Homo sapiens: one gene and its partners. The gene in region 3 interacts genetically with the main gene of each other region. Each region holds a gene or a part of one and is shown on either strand. Other genes may lie near its edges.

Region 1 (7,586 bases), on a different chromosome or scaffold from region 3:
GAACACAAGGTAGGAGACAAGGGTGCTGAGTGCTACATTCTACTAGGGTGTCTGTGACGACCGCTAGCCCTACGCTACGCGACTAGGGGTGGATTCAAAGAGAAAATACATTTTCAGAAAAGAAAAAAACCTAAAGTTTGCAACACACATTATTAATGACATTTGAGAAACAACGTTGCTTAGGGATTTATCCAGAGTGCTCAGAAAAAGAAAACTCGCCCCGCGCCCCCGGGGGCCTTCCAGCAGCCTGGCCGTCCCCCGTCTTTCCTGACTAGGGAGCCCGGACTGGGCTTCGCCAATCCCACACCAGCTCCAAACATCAGCCTCCTCAGGCTGCAGCCCGACATTCTGGAGGGCTGTTGACCCTTTCGAGTTCTGGAAAAATCCCTAAATCTTATGTTCAATTAATTAAAAATCTATTTGATTTCCATATCAGGTGTCCCTGACAGCAGTCTTCCGTATCACTTGCTGCCATATGAAAATAATCTTTGAAAAGTTCATAAAGTTCTTCAAAAACTGGGGCCCCCCGTTTCTGGAATCTTCCTGTTGCTCTCTTCTCCTTTCCAGTTTGGCGTAGAATGGGTTCTTGAGCTGGGTTTTTTGTTATTGACTTTTTTTTTTTCCTTTTTCTTTTTTAAAATAAAAACCATAGATTTCCCACCCTCTTTAATCCCTTCCTTTTAAAAATGTTCTCTTCTCTGCTCTACGTCCTCCCACTTCCCGGTTCAAGTTTCACTGGTGTCCCGACCCGTCCCCCTGCCCTCTGCCCCCCCCCCCCCCCCCGCCCCTGCCCCGTTTGCATTGTTTGTGTGCGGCATCTTCAGTATAAAAGGCCAGCGCCCACGGTCCCAGGAGCGCCTCCCTCCTTCTCTCCCTCCTCCCTCGGGCCATTCTCTCCCTCCCTCCCTCCCTCCCTCCCCTCCAGTGTTTATATGTAAGGGTACTGGTTGACCTTGGCGGGGCTCAGTGGGTATCCAGTGTAGACGGTGGAGGCTGGCGAGGCGCTGATGTAGGTCTGGTGGGCAAATTGGGCTGGATACTGACTCGGGTGGATGGTGGGCGAGGGCAGGACCCGGGGGCCCATGCTCACGGGGACCTGGTGGACGATGCTGGCTGGGTAGGCAGTGTGCTGCACGGTGTGGCGCGCAGAGCCTTGCGAGGCCACCAGGTGGGCCACGGTGCCGGTGGAGCCCAGGGCCGCCGGCGCAGTGTAGGTGTAGAGGTGGGGCTGGGTGGGGAGGTGGGCAGCGGCAGCGGCTGCAGCCAGATGCGGGTGCACAGTGCCGTGGCTGGGGCTGTTGTGCGGGAAGGAGTACGGAGCCTGGGCCATGGTGGGAGTGATGTAGGCCTGCTGCCTTCGGTGGCTCCCAGTGCGGTCCGTGGTGATGTGCTGCTGAGCCTGGGGAGGAGAGGCACCAAGAGAGACGTCAGGGGCCGACACATGGGGAGGAAGGAATGGGAGGAGGGGCAGGAGGGCAGGGAGGAGGAAGAGAAGGGAAAGACTCCAGAAGTAATAGAAGGGGCTTCCCTCTGTGTGTTGAGAAAGTAAAAATTTACTTGGGACCTGGCGCAGTGGCTCACGCCTGTAATCTCAGCACTTTGGGAGGCAGAGGTGGGCGGATCACCTGAGGTCTAGAGTTCGAGACCAGCCTGGCCAATATGGTGAAACCCCGTCTCTACTAAAATACAAAAAAATTAGCCGGGCATGGTGGCACGTGCCTTGTCTGTAGTCCCAGCTATTCGGTGGGCTGAGGCACAAGAATCACTTGAACCTGGGAGGTAGAGGTTGCAGTGAGCTGAGATCACGCGAGTGCACTCCAGCCTGGGTGACAGAGTGAAACTCTGTCTCAAAAAAAAAAAAAAAATTTACTTGGACTGAGAAAATCCCGACTTGGCCTGCCACTCACTGGGCTGGGATGATACACGGATAAAGCCAGCTGCAAAGTTATAGGAGAACATATTTCTCCCAAGGACGTACAGAAGCTGTGAAGTATCAGGATGCCCCAGGCTGGAGTGCAGTGGCATGAACCTAGCTCACTGTAGCCTTGAACTCCTGGCCTAGAATGATCCCCCCGCCTTGGGCTCCCGAGAAGCTGGGACTACAGGCGTGAGCCACCGCACCCGGCCAGGACACTCTCTTTGAGCAGCAGTTGCTTTCTTACTCACTGTAAAATCTTGTTCTCAAAATTATTGGCTCTCACAACATCTCTACAAAAAATTTTGAAAATTAGCTGGGTGTGGTGGCTCATGCCTGTAGTCTCAGCTACTCGGGAGGCTAAGGTGGAGGATTACTTGAGTCCAGGAGGCAGAGGCTGCAGTGAGAGCCATGACAGTGCCACTGCACTTGAGCCTGGGTGACAGAACAAGACCCTGTCTTAAAAAAAAAAAGTTGGCTCTCAGAAGCGTTGCTGTTTGAAGTTCTGTCAGTCCAAATAAAATAGCCCTCTTCTACCTGGTGAACCTAAGTCACGTGACAGAGACACGGGCTCCACTGATGACCTGGGGCAGCACTTCAGATGAGGGGCTCTGAACACAAACACCCCATTTATCTCACTTTGTTTCTAGAGAAACAGGGCCCTGAGTCCACCACGTGAGTCAGGCCTGATGCCGAGCCCTTGACACAGACAGCCCTGCACCCACAGAAACTCAGGTCACTCACATTTCACCTCAACCCACCCCCCTTCCTCCAGGTCCTGGGACAAATCTTACCCTTGACTTGGGGGCTGTGGTGTGCGGGCCCTCCCTGCAATGAGTCGGATGCAGGTCTGTCCCTGATGTCCCAGGCCGACAGGGCCGGGACACAGTGCTCTACCCTTTGCTGGGTTGAAACAGCAGTATGTGGGCCATCCTATTTTTAAGCTCTGGCACCATGTCACTAAGGGCTTTGTAACATTAGACAAGTCGCTTTGCTTTGGGCCAGCACTCTGTGCACTGGTGATATCAACTTCCCCAAGGGTGACCTGTGGTAGAAAAAGCCACCAGAGGTCACCAAGGGCATGTGCTGCCACCCGTGGCCAGGACTGCAGCCCTGTGAGGTGGGTGAGGGGCCGCCACAGCAATCCTCTCTGAAGCGGAAGGATGAGGGGATGGGGGCCCTGCCTGGCCTGGGGCGCCAGCTGTGGGGCTTACCTGGCTGAGATTGAGTGGCTGCTGCTGCTGGAAGTGGGGGCCCGGCCGCTGCTGCCGGTAGGTGATGGCTCCAGATGAGCTCCCTGAAGAGTGACCGCTGGTGGAGGTCACGTTGCTGGAGGACTTGGACTTGTAGGAGGACGAGTGGTGACTGGTGTTGACTGTGGCGGGAGGAGAAAGAGGTCAGATCAGTGGCAGGGTCCCAGCTGCCCAGAAGATGCTACCCCACCAGAGAACAGTGGTCTTCCAGGAAGAAACATGTGCCTGAGGCCGGGCAGTAACAAATCAGCCTCATCTCCCCCGGACCCACTAGGACTTTGCCTTGACTCTGGATGCAGTGGGGCTCTGGCTCACTCCCTCGGCTGGGAGGGTGGTCGGGGCTGCATGAGGGAATGAAGCAAGGGAAAGCGGAAAAGAATCAGGAGAGGCAAGGTGGGCTGGTGGCCTAAGGCCAGGCCCAGTGCCGTTCCTCTGGGAGGTGTTACTTTCAGCATCTGGAAAATGGGTAGGAGAGATCTGCTATAATTTGAATGTGTTCCCCAAAGTTCTTGTGTTAGAAACTTAGTCCCCAGTGCAAGTGTTTAGGGTGGGGCCAGTAAGGGATGTTAGGTCCTGAGGGCAGAGCCCTCATGAGTGTATGAGTTCATCAGTGCATTAATATTATCTCGGGAGTGGGTTAGCTATTGAGAGATTGGCTTTTTTGATGAAAACAAGTCTGGCCCCCTCACCCTCATGCTCTTTTGTCCTTCTGCCTCCTGTGCTAGGAAGATGCAGCACAAAGGTCCTTGCCAGATGCTGGCATCCTGTTCTTGGACTTCCAGTCTTCAGAATCGTGAGCCAAATAAACTTCTATTGATTATAAATTACCCAGTCTCAGGTACTCTGTTACAGCAACACAAAATAGACTAAGACAGGATCCCTGCTTGGTCCCCACCATGGGTGACTATGAGTATCAGAGGAGACAGTGTCTGTGGTGGGACCTAATAAACTACTAGAAGCTAAAATAACCCTCAGAGTCACCTGGTCCAGTTACCTGCCTCTAGGCAGGATGAGACTAAATCATCCGGGGAATGGCCCTGTGAGCCAAACATGGCCAAGCACAAAACTGCCTCCATGTTATTGCCAAGGGGGCTGAAGAGTGGAAAAAACACTGCAACCCTCCAGAGGTGACCTCATGGTCAGCAGGTGGCTCCATCAACAGTTCTCAAATGTAATTCCTGCATCTTGTTCAGTGCAGACTCTGGCCAGCAGCTCTGGGGGGCCCGAGCACCTGCATTTCTGACAAGCTCCCAGGGGGTGCCAGTGCTGCTGCTTGGGGGACCACGCTCTGAGTAGCCAGGGGCTCTGAGAGAGGTGGGTTAAACCCTGAGCTGGATGGCTTCCATGTTACCCAGCCAGAGAGCCAGGGGAGCCAGGAGCCTCTTCAGAGCCCAGTGGTTTTAACTCATCCAAGTATTTTCTGAGCTCCTGCCCTGTGCTAAGGACGGTGACTGTGTACCACCAGGGACGGGGGTGGCAGGGAGAAGGCTGAGAGCGTGAATAAGGAGGAGGCATCACAGATCACGCAGATGAGGTGGCGAGGCCAGAGGATAAACCAGATGAAGACGCTGACAGTCAGGGACAGCCCAAGTCCAAGAAGGCTGATGGAACAGGACAGGGCAGGACAGGGCATGAGTGTCCAGCCCAGCAGGGGCAAGAGCCCCAGAGGGCGGGAGCTCTGCTGCCGAGTGGGGGCCATCTCCCCACCCCAGCTTGGGGAGTTCTGCAGACAGGACCATCACCCCTTGATAAAAGCAGAAGAGATGCTTTACTAGCCCCCCATGTCCCTGTGCCTCAGCTCTCCTCCAGGAGAGGGCTGCCTAACACACAGTGCAGTATTAATACACACCTAAATGAAATTTCCAATCAAATGCACCCAGATGCACCAGTCATAGCCATTCATTAAATGCAAGCACTTTTGTAATGGCAAAAGCAACAAACAGACCCAGACTAGTGAGAAGATACTGGGCTTCCTTTTTTTTTTTTTTTTTTTTTTTTTGAGATGGAGTTTCACTCTTGTTGCCCAGGCTGGAGTGCAATGGTGCGATCTCGGCTCACTGCAACCTCTGCCTCTCAGGTTCAAGTGATTCTCCTGCCTCAGCCTCCCAAGTAGCTGGGATTACAGGCACCCGGCACCACGCCTGGCTAACTTTTTTGTATTTTTAGTAGAGACAGGGTTTCACCATGTTGGCCAGGCTGGTCTCAAACTCCTGACCTCAGGTGATCCACCTGCCCTTGGCCTCCCAAAGTGCTGGGATTACAGGCGTGAGCCACCGCGCTGGGCCAACACTGGGCTTCTTTAGGAGCAAACTGCATAATGGCCTAGGAAAGTGTGGGAGGCAGAAAATTCCAGATACCTTTCTCTAACTTCAATGACAACGGAAGCAGAAAAAGAGGGGTTTAGTAAGTGAAGGCTACGACAAAGCAGCCTGAAGACTGTGTGGTTTGTGTTGTATAGTTAGAAACCATAGTTACAACAAGCATTGCTTCTGTTCCTTAAACGCTAAAGAACAGTAGAGTTAATGGAGAAGAAAACATCTTCCAGGTGGAAAGACAGGCAGATGGTCCCCCACCAAGAAGGGCAGGGCAGACCAGGGAATGAACAAGAGCCTGGCGCTGGGGCTGGGGGCTGTCCTGCCTCCTTGGGCAACCAGTCCTGCTGGGGTGAGATGTGCACAGAAACAATACTGATTTTTTTTTTTGAGATGGAGTCTTGCTCTGTCTCCCAGGCTGGAGCGCAGTGGTGTGATCTTGGCTCACTGCAACCTCTGCCTCCCAGGTTTAAGTGATTCTCGTGCCTCAACCTCCCAAGTAGCTGGGATTACAGGCATGCACCACCACGCCCAGCTAATTTTTTTTTTGAGACAGAGTCTCGCTCTGTCGCCCAGGCTGGAGTACGGTGGCGTGATCTCAGCTCACTGCAGCCTCCGCCTCCCGGGTTCAAGTGATTCTCCTGCCTCAGCCTCCCGAGTAGCTGGGACTACAGGCGCCCACTGCCACACCCAGCTAATTTTTGTATTTTTAGTAGAGACGGGGTTTCACCATATTGGCCAGGCTGGTCTCGAATTCCTGACCTTGTGATCCACCTGCCTTGGCCTCCCAAACTGCTGGGATTATAGGCATGAGCCACCGCGCCCAGCTGCTAATTTTTGTATTTTTGGTAGAGACAGAGTTTGACCATGTTAGCCAGGCTGGTCGTGAACTCCTGACCTCAAGTGATTTGCCTGCCTCAGCCTCCCAAAGTGTTGGGATTACAGGCGTGAGCCACTGTGCCCAGCCATGGTACTGATTCTTAGTCTAAGAACCAGACTGAGGAAGACTTTGCCCAGGAAAAAGGGAGCGCATTTTAAGAGAGAAAGGTAATGAGTAACCTCCTTTCCGCCATCCTTTGTTGATTTGAGCACTTCATGTGTTGTATCTTGTACTCAGTTATTTTTCTTCATTAAGTTTCTGGAATGTGCTTGAAATATTTTTATCACCTTGACTTTCTATGGAGGACAGCTAAATTCCTTTTTTTATTTTGAGGTGGAGTCTTGCTCTGTCGCTCAGGTTGGAGTGCAGTGGTGCAATCTCGACTCACTGCAACCTCTGCCTCCCAGGTTCAAGTGATCCTCCAGCCTCAGCCTTCCGAGTAGCTGGGATTACAGGTGTGTGCCACCAAACCTGGCTATTTTTTGTATTTTTTAGTAGAGATGGGGTTTTGCCATGTTGGCCAGGCTGGTCTCGAACTCCTGATCTCAGGTGATCTGCCCCACCCTTGGCCTCCCAAAGTGCTGGGATTATAGGCGTGAGCCACCGTGCCGGACAGCTATATTTCTGTGATTTATATTTTTTGGAAACCTTGCTGGACTTTAGGATTACTGCCTGGTGACACTGAAAAGCGTAAGGAAGCCCTAGGAGAGGAAAGATGAAATAACTGAGTATGGGAAAGAGCTTTGGCCAGGGAATCCAGTCATTCGCCAAAATGCGGTGCTATTGTTCCACAGAGCCCCAACTCTAAAGCAGTCCACATTTGAGGAAGGTGCCCAAAGTAGGGGTGTTCAAAGGACGAATCAGGTAAAATGTTTCATATGAAGGGAGAGGCAGCAAGAACATATTGCAAGATGTCCAAAGACAGATCTACACCTCACGTTCAGAAGCAAGAATTCGGAGCATTCATTTTGGGGCCTGAGCATCTTAGGTGAACTGGAAGGCTCATACTGTCTCAATGAAGTATCCTATGGGTGGTTAGTGTAAAAGGAGAGAATCTGGTCATTCTTGGGGCAGAGGTGCTAAATATTAATGAGCCATGCATGGAAACGACCAGGCCCTTGATTGAATTCGGTTGGATCAATTCTATTACAAATCCCAGGGCGATGAAATCAAAGTCAAAGAGGAGACGCCTGAGGCTGGAGCCAGCAAGAAAGAATGCTGATTAA
Region 2 (6,131 bases), on a different chromosome or scaffold from region 3:
TGCACTCCAGCCTCTGTCTCAAAAAAAAAAAAAAAAAAAAAGAAAGAAATTGGGACACTGAGGTAAGCAGCCTTCAATCCTTGCTGAGCATTTGGCCCTAATCCTCTAAATTCTTTTGAGAGTTTAGGGTTGGGACTGAGGGAGTGGGTCAGCTTGGATCAACGCCAGCACTCTGGATGTCAGCAGTGGCCAAGCGTCTTCCTTCTGACTCTGTAAAGCTGGAGCAATCCTCTTATTGCACAGGTACTGGCACTGTCAGATAGAAACGACAGCCCTGGGAGGAGACCTGCAGCACTGACAGTCAGTGGTTCAGACACATGAGCCCGGACCCCAGTGCTGTCATGGACCCGTGCCATGACCTTGGCCCAATGACTGTTTCCACAGTGGAAACAAACAGTGAAAGTTCCAACCCCAGATGTAGTGACGAAGGTTCATTGCACTTGCACACAGTAGATGCTCAATAAATACCCATTACTCAATTAGGGAAATGAAGCACAATATCCATTTTTGGAAAATATTTATTAAAAAACTAGTGAATGTGGCAGAAAAACAAAACCAACACACAGCTTTAAATAGCAAGCATATGACACACCGGTTATAAAGCTTTTCCAACTCTACTGATTTAGTCTTTCACACCAGCTACTGTTGAGGAGGGCTTCCGAGGGAAGCCACGTGTAAACGGGTCATCTGTACTAGTGGTGAGCAAAACTAATTACATGAGAACTATCAATGGCCATATGACTTGCTTTCCTAGGCAATCCACCCAAAACATAGGTGAGTGGCCAAATCTCAGGCGTGCGTTCATGTGGATCTATAGTTCTAGTTTTAATTTGAGGGTTGGGGGAAGTTAGGGGATGAAACAGTAGAAAGACAAACAGTATCGGCAGAGGGCAACCTTAAAGCACCTTTAAAATCTGGACCCTTTCCCACAATTTAACCCAGTAATTCTCAAACATTACTGTTGAAAAGAATCACCTGATGAGACTGTTAAATTGGCAGGCTCCCTAAATCTGCAATTTTAAGATAAGCACTCCGGGTGATTCAGTGTCTATTAGCCAGCCATCCAATTTCAGAAACACTGTTTAAAATGCATTAAAACAATTCCTACCTCCCACAAACAAAAGTAAAGGAATCTGCTGACAGTCACTGTGCTTTTGTCAATGTCAAGGGACCAATATGGGAAGGCAGGCAGGAAGGGGCCTCCCATTCCTAACACACTGATCTATAGAAGCCCTGTGCAACAGCCTGTCAAGTGTTGTTTAGGGAGTAAATACAATTCAATAAGAGTTGTTTTAGATCACAGAACAGCATCCAAATCACCAACAGGCCAACCCCATTCATCCCAGGTTAATGAACTTTGTTGGGTCGAAGCCAGATGGGACACTGCTGTTCAAACAAAACACGGGTAATTGTGGGTCCTGACTTGTGAAGACATATGGAATAAAACATCTATAAAAACCTTTATTAAACATAGAGCACTATGCCCAAATAATTTTGAAGGTTTACGAAAGTCACATCATGGACAACATGTAGAAATAGTAACATTGATTCCAAGGTTCCCATTATCTGCAAAAAGATGTGCTATGGCTGTGTCGAAAACAAGGCAGTCGCTGTTCATGATGGCCGCAGCCACACCGTCATGAATCGAACGGGGCGTGGCCTCCCAGGTCAATCTCCGCCGGTTCCCATTCAACTCCAGTCTGTAGGCAAAGTTCTCGGCTTGCTTGCGGGTGCCAATGAGCAGGACGATGGCAAAAAACTGCTGGTGGCCTTCGTACTTCTCTTGTTTCTCCAGCACCAGCATGAAGTGATGGCCAAAACATGACTGCATCATCACCCAGTCGACAGCCCCTGGCAAGTTAATGTCTGTAGCTAGAAAGACGATGTCTTCTCCCTGAAGGGTGGTAATGCTCTTGTGGGCGTGCATGAGATGGGACATCACAGCTTCCAGGGACCCCTGCCACTTGCAGGAAGCACCAGGACATGGGCAGGAGTAGGGACGGTATTCACATATGTCTTCATGTTCTGGTTTCTCCGTATGGTGCAGGGTCAGGGAACAGCCCGTGGTGGCATACTGCAAAGAAAGAAATGCATTGAGCCATTGGGCCTTCTCAAAACTTCTATTGCTTCAACCCTCTATGAGTACTTAACTACTCCATTTTCCTGGGCTTAAACTGTGTTCTTAACTACTTTTGCTCAAAGCAAGTGAAATATTCAAGACTAAAAGTCTCCGTCTCTATTCATCATCAATGCTGTCATGCATAAAATGAAGGGTATTTCCTGAACCAGAAATACGCTGTTTTCCATGCCCCCTGTTCCGCTGTCAAAGGGATCAGAACTAAAGTTCTCTTACTGTGCACATCTCAAAATTGTTGAGCAAGCCCTATAAAAGCTGGTCTTCCCCATATTTTCTGTGAAGCTGTTTTTTAAAGAATTCAATTGCTTGGGTGGTGGGGATGGGGTTGGGCAAGGAATATTATATTATCCCAAGATTAGTTTTCACATATAGACAATATTAACAACAGTATAATTCTGTCGTCCCCCTCCACTGCTTTCTGGCTCAAACTGGTGACTGGCAGGCAGGCCGTGGGGAAGGCTGCCCTTTGGTTCCTTGCTCTTTGCTGCTGGCATCACCAGGCTAGGGCAGCGGAGGCCTGGAGACCCCTTCATACAGCTAGAAATATTACCCCACTGCATCCTTTTGACCTTCCCTCTGGGGGGCTTTGCCCATATTTTTTGGGTGGAAGGAAATCACATCCAAGAGCTACTTAACTAACTCAGAAGACTACTGGTCAGTCTGGTTCTGGCCAGTAGAGGTTAACATGAGAAGGGCCTAACCCTCCTCTCAAAGCTTGCTGACCCCCAACACTTCCTCAGATTCAAGAGCACATCATTTCATGGTCAGGTATGTCAGGTCCTCACAACAGGCCCGGGAGGAAGCAGAACTAGACAAGTTTGCTGACATGATCAGTCTGCCCCTCAGACACTGCCTTAATAGGGTAGGAGAACAAAATCATTTTCTCCCTTGCACTTGGGATGACATTCCTAATGGATAAATCATACCTGCCGTGGCAAAAGACCACACCAAGAGGAACTGAACTTCTACTCCAGACTCTCACAAGGATGACAGTGTTAATTCCTAGATACCAGATGGAGATCAGCCCACAAGTAGACACCTGCCCTGAGTACTAAGCTGTTCTGTAAAGAATTAAGAAACCTGAATCACCTTTTCAGGTGAAACTAGGTGTCAGCCTTAGACCCCTGGAGCACAGAATGGCAGGGGAACTGTCTGGCTAACTACACTTGGATTCCCCTGCTCCACTGAGACATGAAGGCACCAAATAAGGGCAAGGCCAGGTCATTTTTCTAAGATGCTATGTCCAGTTGCTAAAAAAAAAAAAAAGCACCACTGCTGTTTTTGCTTCTCTCTACCCTGCTTTATAGAATAATCCCCCTTTTAAACTTGAAGTCGGTCAAATTCTAACCTTCATAGATGAATTTATCACTAGCAACAAGCAGATGGTATGCACTATGTGACTTCTCCATACAAGACGCTAAGTTACAGTCACTCAGAGGATTCCGAAGCAAGGATGACAGCCTCCACTCTCAGGGGGATTAGTCTCCCCTAATCGGAAAGGAGAGTGGCTTAAAGAAAGAAATGTAGCTCATCCTCCAACCCCCACTTCCCCATACCTAAGCGGATTATAATATTTAACAGAAATTGGCAGAAATATTTCAGTTACTTATTTGCCCATAGGAATTGTTTGTTCATCTTTTAAAACTCTGAACTAATTTCTAAAGCCTGGCTGTAAAAAAACTCACTCAGGAGAAACAAATTTATTTATCCATGTGTATTCATACTTTGTGTTCCTTACTTTATAAGGCCTGAAAAACAAATCCCTATTAACTGTGTTTTAAATCTAGGGTGTGGCTAGGAATACAGAGCCTCCTCATGTTCTTCTGTGAGTGATGGGTGAGACATTTCTGTCCAGTTTAAAAAAACACACACACACAATAAAAATAGCAAGAAATAGCCCAGAGCCTGGCAGAGTCTCGAAACAAGCTCTCAATATCTGAAGATGTTTCAAGACGAACTTTTCCCCATAGCTGCCCAGGAATGAGATGAACTTTGGCCAATGGCACCCAGAAAGGTACCAGCTGCACCTCTGCCCAAAGTCCCAAACCACTCCTCATTCATGACGAACTCAACATTTACAGCAAATATTTATCACTTGGCAATCATTTTATAACTTTCCCCACTCAAGTAGGAGTATTTATACTCTGAATTATTTGATTTGCCTTACAAATCACATATTCAACACTTCTTTCCACCCAAATATACAGAACAGGGAACCTCCCCAAACTGCACAAATAGAAAAGGCATTACTTTGCATTTGTGTGGACAACGATCTCATGTTTTTTCATAAGGATCTTGCTACATCCTCTATTAACTTAAATAAATAGTTTTAAAGCCTTAGGTGCTTACTCTGCTTTTACTGAACAAGCAGAACTTTCATGGCAATCTATCCCTTCTCTTTCCATCATGGGTAAGGTTCATGTCTTCATAACAACTGGTGCCACTTTTATGATGACTAAAGTCTAAATTTTAACCCCCTACACACACACACACACACACACACACACACACACACACCCCACATTTCATACTTCAAGCAGTTTTGGCATTGTTCTGGAATGGCATGTCAGAGCACCATGGGTGTTTTGTCACTTTCATCAGGGGCTCTCATCCAGGGATCCGAGGGAGGACTTTAGTAGTTTGTGAATTCCCCAAGACTGTATGTAAAACTGTCTAGGTGCTTCTGAGCAGCAAAGCCAAGTCTCACTGGCCCCTGGCCTTGGGCTTGTGTTTTCTTTTCTTTTTTTTTTTTGAGATGGAGTCTTGCTCTGTCACCCAAGCTGGAGTGCAGTGGCGCGATCTCGGTTCACTGCAAGCTCCGCCTCCCGGGTTCATGCCATTCTCCTGCCTCAGCCTCCCAAGTAGCTGGGACTACAGGTGCCTGCCACCACACCCAGCTAATTTTTTGTATTTTTAGTAGAGACGGGGTCTCACCGTGTTAGCCAGGATGGTCTCGATCTCCTGACCTCGTGATCCACCCGCCACGGCCTCCCAAAGTGCTGGGATTGCAGGCTTGAGCCACTGTGCCCAGCCTGGGCTTGTGTTTTCTTGAAGAGCTCCAAGGGTTTCTAAGAGTTTCCAGGGCTGAGAACCTCTATCCTAGAGCACACAGAAGGAATCAGCTGTGGATCCTGCCCTTGTGGTGTTTCCAGTTGAGAAAGACCATATAATAAATTTAACAACTATGTAAAGGAAGACCAGGAGGGCAACAGGTGATTTCAAGGTGGGACAGGGTGAGGAGGACATGGTAAGGAAAGCTTTATTGTAGACAAGTGGATTGTGGATGGAGTTGTTCCATCTGGTTCTAGCACAGGGTGAGTGGAGGAAACAGTGGGGATAAAACCTCAAGGAGGCCAGGCGCGCTGCTCACACCTGTAATCTCAGCACTTGGGTAGGCTGCGGCAGGTGGATCACTTGAGGTCAGGAGTTCAAGACCAGCCTGGCCAATATGGTGAAACCCTGTCACTACCAAAAAATATAAAAAATTAGCTGGGTGTGGTGGCATGCACCTGTAATCCCAGCTACTAGGAAGGCTGAGACAGGAGAATAACTTGAACCCAGGAGGAGGAGGTTGCAGTGAGCTGAGATCGTGCCACTGCATTGCAGCCTGGGCAACAGACTGAGACTCTGTCTCAAAAAACAAACAAACAAACAAACAAACAACCTAAAGGAGAAGGCAGGTGAGGGACCTTCCTGACAATGGAGTTTATTTTGAGTTTCTCGACAGTGGTGCTATTGACATTTTGGACCTGATAATTCGTTGTTGTGGGGGCTGTGCTGTGTACCGCAGGATGTTTAGCAGCATCCGTGGTCTCTATTCATTAGATGCCAATAGCAACCACCCCCTGCCCCTCAGTTGTGACAACCAGAAATGTCTCCAGCTCTCCAGGCATGGCCAAATGTCACGTAGGGGGCAAAATGGCCCCAGTTGAGAACCACTGACTCTGATAAGAACTACTCATTCCAATTCTCAAGAATGACAAAACCTGGCTTC
Region 3 (8,380 bases):
GGTCTATTTGGCTGTAAAGGAGAAATCACATGGGGCTCTTACCTTATGAAACTCCAGCGAGGACTTCTGCATGCTCTGCTGACACATCGTACACCCAACCTAAACACACACACACACACACACACACACACCAGATGTGGGTCCACCCAGCACCCAGGGCCTGCCCCACATCCACTTTGGCTCACAGTGTTCCGGGTTTGGGTCTGTGAACTCCCAGAGGGCAGGGATCCGATGTGGCTACCTCAGTGTCTCTCTAGCACCCCGCCCAGTGTTCAAGAAGTGTTTGTCAGACCAGTCTGAGTTGGCAACGGCTGCCTGAGCTTGAGTATCTCCAGAGAGACAGATCAGGGGCCCCAGGAGGAATGGACATGGAAAGGCGGGAAACAGGGCTCCATCTGACTGCCTTCCAGGACCTTCCTTTTTCACATCCTCTCTTTACAGATCTCAAGAGAACAGCCAGTCTTTCCTGAAACCAGAACCTCTTGCCTATGCCAGATCCATAAGCCTGTAGGGAAAGGATTGGAAATAGGAAAACTGGAGGTAGACTCAGATTAGCATGAAAAAGGCAGGATTAACATTTCCTTTCCATGGGCTTTGTGTGGAGGGGCTAAATGACTTCCCATGGCCCTCAAGTGAGTCTCTGCCTGGGGGACTGGACCCTTGCCTTAAGTCCCCAGCCCTCACCCCAACTCCCGGACCCCATCTCTCCTGCAGGGAGGACTGGAGCCATTCCCTGACTCCCAGACCCCTTCTTTCTTGCAGGGAGGATGGAACACTTGCCCCTCCCAGACCCCATCTCACCTGCAGGGAGGACTGGACCCTCGTCCCCCAACTCTCAGACCCCATCTCTCCTGCAGGGAGGACTGGACCCACTCTGTGACTCCCAGATCCCATCTCTCCTGCAGGGAAGATGGAACACTTGCCCCTCCCAGACCCCATCTCACCTGCAGGGAGGACTGAACACTCTCCTTGACTCCCAGACCCCATCTCACCTGCAGGGAGGACTAGACCCTCGTCCCCCAACTCTCAGACCCCATCTCTCCTGCAGGGAGGACTGGACCCACTCTGTGACTCCCAGACCCCATCTCTCCTGCAGGGAAGATGGAACACTTGCCCCTCCCAGACCCCATCTCACCTGCAGGGAGGACTGAACACTCGCCTTGACTCCCAGACCCCATCTCACCTGCAGAGAGGACTGAACACTCGCCTTGACTCTCAGACCCCATCTGTCCTGCAGAGAGGACTGAACACTCGCCTTGACTCCCAGACCCCATCTCACCTGCAGAGAGGACTGAACACTTGCCTTGACTCTCAGACCCCATCTCACCTGCAGAGAGGACTGAACACTCGCCTTGACTCTCAGACCCCATCTCTCCTGCAGAGAGGACTGAACACTTGCCTTGACTCCCAGACCCCATCTCACCTGCAGGGAGGACTAGACCCTCGTCCCCCAACTCTCAGACCCCATCTCACCTGCAGGGAGGACTGAACACTCACCTTGACTCTCAGACCCCATCCTCCCTGCCGCCTCCTCACCTGCTGGTGCTCAAGCTTGCAGTGCTCCTCCATGGTTTCCTTGGGGACAGGCTCCTCACACTCCGGACACAGGACCAGGAACCGCAGGCAGTAAGCCTCATGGAGGGTGAAGTTGGCAGAGACTACATGTCTTTTACTACAGGGTCAAGGTGTGGGGATAGAAAAATAGACTTATTTTCATATTATAAAACATGGAGCTGTATTTCATACCCAGGGCTAGATCTCCAGAGGCCTTAAGCACTGAACATGTGATGATGATGACACCACCTGCCCCACACTCCCTGTGTGGGTCCAAAAGTCAGAACAGTGAGGCAGCATCTAATAAGAATAAGGATGATCTACAGAGCTCTTACATTGCTGGGGCAGGGCATGGGAAGGAGCAGGAGGGAGGAATTACAAAGGGGCATGGGGAGCTTTTGGGGTGACAGGAAGCTTCATTATCTCAATTACGGGGATGGTGTTTCATGGATGTATATAACTTAGGCCAAAACTTATCAATTGCTACCCTTTAAAATGTGAGGTTTATTGTAGGTCAATTATACCTCTATAAGGCTGTTTTTAAAATGAAACATTTCATTTTAAATAATGTAAATAATTAAATTATTTCAATTTAAATAATTTGAGAGAAGTGCCAAATTCTCTTGAATCTTTTTTCTTGTTTTCTGGTGCCCCTGTTTGGTCCACAGTGTTAGGAACGCAGCCCTGCTAGGCTCACGCTTCCTGCCAGGGCCATGCCAACTTCCAAAATCTCCAAAGCGAGAGCTTCCCAAGTCTCCCCTGCCTTCAGGTTCACCTGCGCTAACTCACAGAGACTCCGAGGTTCTTCCTGGAGACCACAGTGAAGGAAGGGTTCTGAGCCTCCCACTTCCTGGGCAGGGCATTTTTCTCTAACCGTCCTTTTTGCCAAGAAGTGCCCCCTTTTGGCTGGGTGTGGTGGCTCATGCCTGTAATCCCAGCACTTTGGGAGGCCGAGGCGGGTGGATCACCTGAGGTCAGGAGTTAGAGATCAGCCTGGCCAACATGGTGAAACCTCATCTCTACTAAAACAATACAAAATTAGCCGGGCATGGCGGTGCACGCCTGTAATCCCAACTACTCGGGAGGCTGAGGCAGGAGAATCACTTGAACCCGAGAGATGAAGGTTGCAGTGAGCTGAAATCGCGCCATTGCACTCCAGGCACTCCAGCCTGGGCAAAAAGAAGCGAAACTCCATCTTAAAAAAAAAAAAAAAAGAAGAAGAAAGAAAGAAATGACTCCTTTCATTTCCATCAGCTCTTGCTTGTGGCAGCTTGGGAGAAGGGAAATGGGGTGGCTGTAGCCGTAAAGGCCCAGGGGACGAGAAGAGTTACATGCCCATGTTCCTGGCACAGGGGACGTGCTCCGAGAGGGACTGTCAAAGCCTCACTCCTCTTCTGCCCAGGCAGCGGGCACACAGGCAGCATCATCTTCCCTTCCTCTGCTCTCTCTCCTCTGCCTGACCTGGCCCCTTCTCCCCCTGCTCTTCCTGGGCTGGTTGAGAAACCAGAGTACTTGAAGGGTCTGGCTGGAGCAAAGCTCTCTGGGGAGGGTCCACTCAGGTCCCTGTCACAGGTAGGGAGCTTTGAGAATGGGGCTTTTTGATCGGTCAGATTCCGCGCCCCCCCTCCCGTTAGAGGTGTGGTCCCAGCCCCCTGCTCTGTCCCCCCTGCCCCGCCCCACGGCTCCCTTTCCAAGGAGGGTGAGAGTAGTCCTGGAGAATCTCCGTGGGACACTTTCTTTCACAGATGGGTGTGAAGGTCATAGTATCAGAACCCCAAATTAGGACCCAAGGTCTCACAAGTATGAGTAGCCCAGTTGGGACCACTGGCCGGGCTATTTGGCTTCAGAACTGTCCCAGAAAGCCTAACATTTGGGGGAAAGGGGCTGCAGTGAAGTGGAGGTAATGCTGCCCACCCCCACCCAGAGATTACCAAGTTTAAACCCTCCTACCCTTGGGGCCCACGGTCTCCAGCTGCTTGTCCTCCTAAGTGTTCTTATGCAGGAACCACTTTCTGCTCCCTTCAGAAACAGCCCTATGTCGTCTACGTCTCTCCCTCGCCAGCCCGGGTCTGCCGCTGGAGAAAGCACTTTCTTACCAGTTCCTGCACACCGAGAAGTCTCCTTCCATGTTCTGCTCTCTGCAGGCTTTCGGTTGAGTTTCGTTTCTTGCAGGCAAGGAAACAAAACTGAAAGTTTTCCGATGGCCCAGCCCACAGCTTCAGGGAGGGAGGAGATCTTCAGAATTCTCGGCTCAGGAGTTCCCCTTGATTCCTGAGGCTGGACCCTCCCAAGAAGCCCCTTTACAGCATGGCCAGCCCCTGCTGTCGCCCTTGGCCGTCATTCTTTGCTGCTGTCACAGCCGCATCTACCTCCCTGAGGCTGGCAGCCTGAGGCCAGGCCTCTCCTGGGCAGCACAGCAGCTTGTTCCCTCACCCTGGCTGGCTGGCTTCTCTCCGTCTGGGTCTCCATCCCTTTTCCAAACCATCCACCTCCCACCCTTCTCCCCCATCTCCGGCTCCCTTCTGGTCCTCCCCTGCAGGAAAGAGGGAACTTGCCATGTTGAGCTTGAATGCTGTTCCCTAAAAATGGCTCCTGGACTTCCAGGCGGTGAGGACCTTGCAAACAGCGTCCAGGGAGGCTCTGGGGATGCAGGGTGGTGTGAGCCCAGACCCAATCTGGTGTGTATCCTCCTGGGGGTCCTTAGAGTTTTTCCAGACCCTAGAAACAGCTGTGCTAACAGAAGAACTCTAAACAACATCTGGAGTGATGACAAGCAGGCCCAGAGAATTCCCGTGGCGTCTGCCAATGGGGTGGGTGCCGCCTCTCTGAGGAGGATAACAAGATTAAGGGAAATGTCCAGGCAGGGCTCCAGCCTCCAGGCAGGCTCTAAAATTCAGGCACTAAATGAGAAGCAGTGTGTGGTGGTACTGATGATCACAGTGATAGGAGGGAAGAATGAAAGACTGTTTCAACATTGTTCCTATGTTCCAGGCACCATTCTAAGCATTAGGTAGGCATTGTCTTCGTTTTAATCCCTCATGTAAGCATTATTAACTCCATTTTGCTATGGAAAACAGAGGCAGTGACAGAGTGAGACTCTGCCTCAAAAAAGAAAAATGAAATGAAAAAAGAGAAAATGGAGGCAGAGAGAGGCTAGGCCAATCGCTCAACATCAGAGCTGGGATTCACACCAGGTTGATATGACTCAGGTGTCTATGTACCTAACCAAGGCCCCATCCACCTCATTTGACAGCTAGTTGGGGTAGTGAGCACTTGGCTGAGAGTCAGAGACTGAGGTTTGCATCTTATCTTGTTCCCTTCCTCATCGGCTAGGCAAGCTCCTTAATCCTTCTGACCCTCACTACCCACTCCTGTCTGTCTCTGGGCAGTCTGTCAATATCAAGAATGAAAAACGAGTGGGCTTGGCTTGGTGGCTCATGCCTGTAATCCCAGCACTTTGGGAGGCCGAGGTGGGCGGATCACGAGGTCAGGAGTTCGAGACCAGCCCGACGAACATGGTGAAACCCCGTCTCTACTAAAAATACAAAAATTAGCTGGGTATGGTAGTGCTTGCCTATAATCCCAGCTACTCAGGAGGCTGAGGCAGGAGAATTGCTTGAACCCAGGAGGTGGAGGTTGCAGTGAGCCGAGATTGCACCACTGCACTCCAGCCTGGGCAACAGAACGAGACTCTGTCTCAAAAAAAAAAAAAAAAAAAAAGGGCTGTGCGCGGTGGCTCATGCCTGTAATCCCAGCCCTTTGAGAGGCCGAGGCGGGTTGATTATGAGGTCAGGAGATTGAGACCATCCTGGCCAACACAGTGAAACCCCGTCTCTGCTAAAAACTACAAAAAATTAGCCGGGCGAGGTGGCGGGTGCCTGTAGTCCCAGCTACTCGGGAGGCTAAGGCAGGAGAATGGCGTGAACCCAGGGTGGAGCCTGCAGTGAGCCGAGATCGCGCCACTGCACTCCAGCCTGGGCGACAGAGCGAGACTCTGTTACAAAAAAAAAAAAAAGAAAGAAAGACAGGAAGAAAGAAATGGAAAAGAAGGAAAAATGAAGAACTTTCTTTTCACATATTGTCTCCTGCTGAGATGGGATAGGGGTGGTGGCAGGGGTGTATAGATTGGACACCTTAGAGGAATGGAATGTGTGGCCAGGGGATAGGAGTGGAATTAGAAGTGACCATAAGTTGCTTCTCATCTACATCCTAATTTTCTTCCAAGATGTTTCCTCCTATAGACTGTCCCACCCACGCCAACCCTTCCCTTCCTCATCAAAATCCCAGCAGTTCTTCAGGACCAACTCCTATGCCAACACTGATCTAGAATCTACCTCCTTTGTCTCTGGCTTTGGTTAGTTGGCTGTGTGTCTATTGTCTCAACTCCTCCCCATCCAATCACAGGCATGGGCGATTTGAGAGCCAGCTCTTTCTGACCCACCACCCCTGCCTTCCTGGAGAGACCCGCGGGCTTTGTGCTTATTAGGCAGAGTGCAGTATTGAGCTTCGCAGTAGCAGGCAGTCAAATGCTGGCTGACCCGAATGGATGGGGTGTTTTGAGATAATTAAGCAGGGAGTTGGAAATCTCCCCCAACCCACACAACACCCCTGAGTCGGAGGGCTCTCAAAGTGGCAGCAATGGCCATTTTCTTTTCATTTCTCAAGATAACTTAGATTTCATAAAGAATATATGAATATACACTCTTTAAAAAAATGGAATGTTACAAATACAGCAATGTTTCTCTTTGACTGTCACGGCTGTTCCTGGGCCATCACTATTATTAATCAGAGAGTGTATGTAGGAACACTCTGGTTAGCACAAAAGCCTGTCCCCATTTCCACTACGACATCAATCGGTGCTGTGGGCTTGTATGATTTCATCATTCTGCCACCCGTCTTTGGCTGGTCGCCAACCCCAATCCCATTTAAAAAAAAAAAAACAAAAAACAGCTAGATGAGAAATGCTCTGTTGTGGGCTTAGAATTCCTTTCCAGGACACTGTGGCTACCCACTTGGCCGTTGTGGGGAGTTTCCGGCAGTCTCTTTGTGTCAGGCCTGTGGGTCAGGGGAGGGGGGTGAAGGTTGTCACAGGAAGCCAGTCTCTCAGACGTGAATTGGCCGGGCTGGCCATGTCACCTTTGCAGGAATCGGGGGGAAAGGGGAGCAGGAAGTCCTGGCTGGACTAGGACACAGGAATAATACACCCCTCCGTGCATTGTTTTGAAGATCAGAAGAGAAATTGTGTGAAAGCTGTACTTGTACAGCATGGAAGACAGGAAAGAATATTTAAAAAGGATTGTTTTAATAGTTTGGCTTTGAGAAGGGATCTTATTTAGGCTTTCTTCTTTTAAGGGATCACTATGCTAAGGAAGATGATGTAACGACAGAGATATTTCACTTCCCAGACAAAAATTATATGGTGCAATTGCACACACTTCTGTCGGTGGTGTCTTTAGAAGAATCCTGTGGTCAGAGTGGGCCTGAGTCCTGGGAGATGTGATCATATAGTCAGACTCCCCAAGCACAACGTGTTTGGATGGGAGTTCGTTTGTCAGACCACAGGAAATTGCATCAGATGACTAGTCTCTGGATGGCATTCAAGCCTGGGAATATCTGTGACTGTGTTTGGGGAAGACTCTAGGCCTGGCTGGGCAGCAAAGACGGGGAATGACCTGCTGGCTGCTGCTTAGTTGGCATATGAAGGGGAAGGAAGCTTGTCATTAAACTCATGGCAAGAAAGAGCAACTCCATGGCATTCTGTCTGTGTGGGGAGTGACCAGTACTTTTCTCTTCCTTTCTTTCTTTGAGAAGTCTCTTTTCACACATTCATAGTTTTGTTTTTGTTTTTTTCTTTTTCCTGGTTAAAACATCTCACCCACTTCCCCTGCCAACCCATTCCCGTCCAATCAGCAATCACAGTCCAAATGTCAAGGTCTCTTCCCTGATGTTTACAAGGGTGAGTGTTATGAGCCTTCTCCTCTTCCCAGATTACACATATTGGGTAAAGAGATGAAGTCTGTCTCTGTCACTCAGGCTGGAGTGCAGTGGTGATCATAGCTCACTGCAGCCTCGAACTCCCAGGTTCAAGCAATCCTCCTGCCTTCACACAGACTACAGGCACACACTACCATACCTAGCTAACTTTAAAAAAAATTGTAGAAATGGGGTCCCACTATGTTACCCAGGCTGGTCTTGAACTGGCCTCAAGTGGTCCTCCAACCTCGGTCTTCCAAGGTGCTGAGATTACAGAAATGTGCCGCTGCATCCAACCAATTTTTTAATAGCTTGATCATGGTATGGTCCCCTTGGTTGCTGCAAATCTCATGGAACTCAGGACAAATGACCATATATGTCAATTTTTTTGTTGTTTCTTTTTATGGTGGAGCGGGGGAGGTGAAAGAGAAAAAGTTTAGAGCTTCAGGGTCTTTTCACTCAGAATTTGGGGTGAACATACTCATATGGTTAAGTTGTGGTAATGAACAGCCACTCAGACTCTCATTTTAGGGAATAACTAGTGTTTTAATTTTTAAAAATGGAAACTTATGTTTCTTCCTACCCTGTCCTTGACATCACGTGGTCTTTCTTACAATGATTCACACTGGCTCCAAGATATTGTGTCCATCTCTTCTTCTTCTTCTTCTTCTTCTTCTTCTTTTTTTTTTTTTTTTTTTTTTTTTTTTTTTGAGAAGGAGTCTCGCTCTGTCGCCCGGGCTGGAGTGCAATGGTGCCATTTCGGCTCACTGCAACCTCCACCTCCCGGGTTCAAGCAATTCTCTGCCTCAGCCTCTTGAGTAGCTAGGATTACAGGCGTCCACCACCACATCAG

Evidence for each region.
Region 1: of XAF1 (region 3) and HIPK2, changing one suppresses a phenotype caused by changing the other (phenotypic suppression), as found in Homo sapiens cells (one study listed by BioGRID).
Region 2: of XAF1 (region 3) and SIAH2, changing one suppresses a phenotype caused by changing the other (phenotypic suppression), as found in Homo sapiens cells (one study listed by BioGRID).

The regions. Positions count from the first base shown.
Region 1 is NC_000007.14:139,571,999-139,579,584, forward strand, and holds part of HIPK2 (homeodomain-interacting protein kinase 2), read right to left. Parts: intron 3,291-7,586; coding exon 3,130-3,290; intron 1,400-3,129; coding exon 929-1,399; 3' UTR 1-928.
Region 2 is NC_000003.12:150,740,625-150,746,755, forward strand, and holds the end of SIAH2 (E3 ubiquitin-protein ligase SIAH2), read right to left. Parts: intron 2,075-6,131; coding exon 1,517-2,074; 3' UTR 501-1,516; downstream 1-500. UniProt on the Homo sapiens protein: E3 ubiquitin-protein ligase that mediates ubiquitination and subsequent proteasomal degradation of target proteins.
Region 3 is NC_000017.11:6,751,381-6,759,760, reverse strand, and holds the start of XAF1 (XIAP-associated factor 1), read right to left. Parts: upstream 3,716-8,380; 5' UTR 3,683-3,715; coding exon 3,651-3,682; intron 1,673-3,650; coding exon 1,537-1,672; exon of another isoform or gene 1,419-1,536; coding exon of another isoform or gene 1,136-1,418; exon of another isoform or gene 993-1,135; coding exon of another isoform or gene 802-992; intron 506-801; coding exon of another isoform or gene 287-505; exon of another isoform or gene 100-286; coding exon 43-99; intron 1-42. UniProt on the Homo sapiens protein: Seems to function as a negative regulator of members of the IAP (inhibitor of apoptosis protein) family. Inhibits anti-caspase activity of BIRC4. Induces cleavage and inactivation of BIRC4 independent of caspase activation.